Regions from separate parts of the Homo sapiens genome. Here region 2 is linked to region 1. A link means that fine-mapping ties the variant in region 1 to the expression of a gene that starts in the linked region. Tissue or cell type: whole blood. Region 1 holds a variant in brackets; the other region holds the start of a gene. All regions are shown on one strand. Distances are from middle to middle.

Region 1 (2,821 bases):
TATTTTCTTTACATAATACAACTGTATACAACATTGTTTATACATTTGGCCAAAAGAAGTATGATAATATGTGGCACACCGAGAAGGAACAGAAGTATCCTAATATTATTTAAGTAAAAAAATCGAATATGCCACAGAAATAAAATAAAGGGATGGAGGAAGATCTACCAAGCAAATGGAAAACAAAAAAAGGCAGGGGTTGCAATCCTAGTCTCTGATAAAACAGACTTTAAACCAACAAACATCAAAAGAGACAAAGAAGACCATTACATAATGGTACAGGGATCAATTCAACAAGAAGAGCTAACTATCCTAAATATATATGCACCCAATACAAGAGCACCCAGATTCATAAAGCAACTCCTTAGAGACCTACAAAGAGACTTAGACTCCCACACAATAATAATGGGAGACTTTAACACCCCACTGTCAACATTAGACAGAACAACGAGACAGAAAGTTAACAAGGATATCCAGGAATTGAATTCAGCTCTGCACCAAGCAGACCTAATAGACATCTACAGAACTCTCCAACCCAAATCAACAGAATATACATTCTTCTCAGCACCACACCACACCTATTCCAAAATTGACCACATAGTTGGAAGTAAAGCACTCCTCAGCAAATGTAAAAGAACAGAAATCACAACAAACTGTCTCTCAGACCACAGTGCAATCAAACTAGAACTCAGGATTAAGAAACTCACTCAAAACCATTCAACTACATGGAAACTGAACAACCTGCTCCTGAATGACTACTGGGTACATAATGAAATGAAGGCAGAAATAAAGATGTTCTTTGAAACCAACAAGAACAAAGACACAACATACCAGAATCTCTGGGACACATTTAAAGCAGTACGTAGAGGGAAATTTACAGCACTAAATGCCCACAAGAGAAAGCAGGAAAGATCTAAAATTGACACCCTAACATCACAATTAAAAGAACTAGAGAAGCAAGAGCAAACACATTCAAAAGCTAGCAGAAGGCAAGAAATAACTAAGATCAGAGCAGAACTGAAGGAGATAGAGACACAAAAAACCCTTCAAAAAATCAATGAATCCAGGAGCTGGTTTTTTGAAAAGACCAACAAAATTGATAAACCGTTAGCAAGACTAATAAAGAAGAAAAGAGAGAAGAATCAAATAGACGCAATAAAAAATGATAAAGGGAGTATCACCACTGATTCCATAGAAATACAAACTACCATCAGAGAATACTATAAATACCTCTATGCAAATAAAGTAGAAAATCTAGAAGAAATGGATAAATTCCTGGACACATACACCCTCCCAAGACTAAACCAGGAAGAAGCTGAATCTCTTAATAGACCAATAATAGGCTCTTAAATTGAGGCAATAATAATAGCTTACCAACCAAAAAAAGCCCAGGACCAGATGGATTCACAGCCGAATTCTACCAGACGTACAAGGAAGAGCTGGTACCATTCCTTCTGAAACTATTCCAATCAACAGAAAAAGAGGGAATCCTCCCTAACTCATTTTATGAGGACAGCATCATCCTGATACCAAAGCCTGGCAGAGACACAACAAAAAAAGAGAATTTTAGACCAATATCCCTGATGAACAT[C/T]GATGAGAAAATCCTCAGTAAAATACTGGCAAAACCAAATCCGGCAGCACATCAAAAAGCTTATCCACCATGATCAAGTGGGCTTCATCCCTGGGACGCAAGGCTGGTTCAACATATGCAAATCAGTAAATGTAATCCATCATATAAACAGAACCAAAGACAAAAACCACATGATTATCTCAATAGATGCAGAAAAGGCCTTTGACAAAATTCAACAACCCTTCATGCTAAAAAACTCTCAATAAATTAGGTACTGATGGGACGTATCTAAAAATAATAAGAGCTATTTATGACAAACCCACAGCCAATATCATACTGAATGGGCAAAAACTGGAAGCATTCCCTTTGAAAACTGGCACAAGACAGGGATGCCCTCTTTCACCACTCCTATTCAACAGAGTGTTGGAAATTCTGGCCAGGGCAATTAGGCAGGAGAAAGAAACAAAGGGTATTCAACTAGGAAAAGAGGAAGTCAAATTGTCCCTGTTTGCAGATGACATGATTGTATATCTAGAAAACCCCATCGTCTCAGCCCAAAATCTCCTTAAGCTGATAAGCACCTTCAGCAAAGTCTCAGGATACAAAATCAATGTGCAAAAATCACAAGCATTCTTATACACCAATAACAGACAAACAGCCAAATCATGAGTGAACTCCCATTCACAATTGCTTCAAAGAGAATAAAATACCTAGGAATCCAACTTACAAGGGATGTGAAGGACCTCTTCAAGGAGAACTACAAACCACTGCTCAACGAAGTAAAAGAGGACACAAACAAATGGAAGAACATTCCATGCTCATGGATAGGAAGAATCAATATTGTGAAAATGGCCATACTGCCCAAGGTAGTTTATAGATTCAATGCCATCCCCATCAAGCTACCAATGGCTTTCTTCACAGAATTGGAAAAAACTACTTTAAAGTTCATATGGAACCAAAAAAGAGCCTGCATTGCCAAGTCAATCCTAAGCCAAAAGAACAAAGCTGGAGGCATCACGCTACCTGACTTCCAACTATACTACAAGGCTACAGTAACCAAAACAACATGGTACTCGTACCAAAACAGAGATACAGACCAATGGAACAGAACAGAGCCCTCAGAAATAATGCCACACATCTACAACCATCTGATCTTTGACAACCCTGACAAAAACAAGAAATGGGGAAAGGATTCCCTATTTAACAAATGGTGCTGGGAAAACTGGCTAGCCATATGTAGAAAGCTGAAAC
Region 2 (2,725 bases), 47 kb before region 1:
GGGGGGAAGGCAATGAAAATGTGAAGTTTAAAGTCAAACACTCACTTAAGGTAGAGAAGGCACTTGAACATTGTGGGTTAATGAATAAATTAAAATTCATTATCTGGTCAGCCCTAAAGCTTTATTTCCCTTGTTTTGTGTAAAGGTTTCAAAAAAATAAAAATGCTTAACAGAACATTCTTGCTAAACATTTGCTTGGATCAGAAAAAGTAGTTTGATTTTGTTTCACTTTTCTGCATGAGACTGGCAGCCTTAGAACCGAACAGCTAATTTCTCCTGGCATGACATTGAGCACTACATCTCTCAAGACAGAAGCAGCTTAGGAAGGCCTGCCACTGTGGGGTGAGCAAGTCCCACCTTGTTCTCAGCTTAAGGCACTCTGGGATGGTCTGAAATGGCCTTTGCCACCTGGCAAAGATCTGTGCTGACCCCTTTCATTCCACCTGGATTCAGGGCTTTCCTGATAAACCAAGCTATGCTGAGCATTCAGCCGTGTGTGATTTCACTGCCCAGACCTTTCTTCCTAACCCTCAATGAATCAGTTTAAACTCGCCCGAGAGCAATGCAGGTCAGGAGTGGAAGTTTGGACTCGAAATTTACCCTCTACTACTAAACACTTCCAAGCAAAACTCTACAAAGCAAAGGGCCCCAAGTCTGTCTTTTCTGTATTTCTCCCAAACATCAGACCAAAAATGAACATTTCTTCATTTGTCCGCCTCTCCCCCAATCTCCATCTCCTCTCCCTCTCTGTTACGCACCCAGGCACACATACACACACAAGCTCACACGCGGAATCACGGCCACCTTGGTTTTGAAAGTCCTCAAATACTAACCACATCCATGGGATGGCGCCTACCTTTCTGAAATGTCAGTCCACAAAAGGTGCCCCTTGCTTGTGAAGTGTAGTCAGAGAGCAGCTTCCAACGTTCCAACCAGCTTCGTTCTCCTCAGAGAGCAGCACAACTCATCTCTGTGTAAGACCTGAAATTCCTTCAGAGACCCACCCTCCAAAGTTGCGAGTCAAGATTTCTGACTGAGGGCAGTCAGTGACGTGAGGCGAAGCTACTGGATGGCACCCTCAGGTTCTTCCTGATGGGATGTTGCTTCCTGTTTCACCACCTTGAGAAAAGAAAGCTGGAATTCAGTGAGACATTGAGTTACAAATGCATCAGTTGCCTCATCGTTGTTGCCTTTTGGTGCACACAGTCATCTGTCAACTGCTGAACAGGATGATCTTGCTGTTTGTATTAAAAGGAAAGGGCTTATGCGCAGAGAGAACCCCAAAACACCAGTCACAACCCTGTACTGTCCTAGGAGCTGGTTCGACAAGTATAGTACTCTCCAGAAAACAGGCAGGGCTTCTTACTAACTAAATCACCACCATGCCACAAAACTCATCCACTAAGGAGCATTGGTCCACAGGAATGTGATTTCTCTGCCCGCTTCCTAGGAATTGAGAAAACGATCAGTTTTTTGAAGCATATAACTGCCAAAAAATACAATAGTCTGGCAATCTTTTCTTCTTAGAACAGTCAGATATAATTCGCATTTTTATTTGTTTGTCTCTAAGAACAATCATCATAGACAAAGACAGACAAGCTCATTAGTATCAGGAAATAAACATTGTTGCTTGTCTCTGTGTGCTTGAACCACTACAATTTCAAAGGCAAGTGTGGATGCATTTTATAGTGTTTATTTGAGATATTGTACCTTTGAAGCCATTTTCACTTTCTCTTGCCTGAAGATGAAACAACTCTGGGCTTGGATTATTTAAAGGTGCTCTGACAAGTAGAGAGCTTCAACAAGTTGATTCCTGTATCTCTCACAAACCAAACATCAGCAGTACCGCCCACACTGAGAGCCTGATTCTCATTAGCTGTCTTCAACTGCTGAAAGACATTTTTCTTTTTTCATCAGCTAATAGATGACCGCAAATTAAAAATGGACTAGATGCAGATAAAGGGAAACACCAGTTTCAAATTCATTAAAGCTCCAAAGTTTCTCAGATTTCACTAATGAATTTAGTTCAAAGAGAGAGGATTGATAAACGCCCTTCCTTTCACTGGGTACTTCTCACTCAGGGCTTCCCGGTCTGCCTTTCTCTTCGAAGACGTTCTGTTTTTCAGTAATGGGCTCATGCATTTTTAAAACCATCTGGCAGAAGGGATGAATTTAAAGCAGACTTGGCCACTAACCGAGGTAGGCTCAGTTCAGGTCTGCCTCACCTTCTGCCAGGAGACCACTGCAGAATTGGTTTCCTGACATGAGGCTTCCATCTTCATCCAATTGTCACCTAACTCACATTCCCATTCTCATTTCTTTTTCTTCTGCTGATTAAACTCTACCAGCCACCTTCTACCTATAGGATCAAGACCAGACTCCTTGGCACAATGGCCTGCTCGCAACCTGCTGCTCCAGGACTTCCTTTTGCCCTTTCCCACTAGATTCCAGACACAACAGTGGGCAGCTTCTGGGCCCTTGCCATGAGCTGCTCTCTCGCCTCTGTGCCTAATGAAAGTCTGAATCCTGCTCAAGCTTCCCTAGCCTCGGCCCTCTCTGTTCTGTGGGTATACCTTTATTGCAACACCTACTACTCTATCACAACTTAACTGATTTTTGTATCTGCTTCCCCACTACTTTGGGAATCCTCACTGGACAAGCCTTAGATCTCTTTCTACCCCTGGAGCTCAGCTGTTCAATACTGGTCAAACAATTAGTACCCAAA

Evidence for each region. PIP is the estimated chance that this variant, and not a neighbour inherited with it, causes the effect.
Region 2: it holds the start of CERS3, and the variant in region 1 is fine-mapped to the expression of CERS3 in whole blood (TOPMed, PIP above 0.99).

What each region holds. Positions count from the first base shown.
Region 1 is chr15:100,575,167-100,577,987 of GRCh38, forward strand. All of the region lies in intron 3 of LINS1 (lines homolog 1), which reads right to left. Among named protein-coding and RNA genes, the nearest start is that of LINS1, 26 kb to the right of the region's middle. The variant C/T (reference allele first, on the strand shown) is at 1,592.
Region 2 is chr15:100,527,957-100,530,681 of GRCh38, forward strand. It overlaps CERS3 (ceramide synthase 3), which reads right to left and starts at 994. Exons shown (of 12, transcript NM_001378789.1): 1 at 857-994.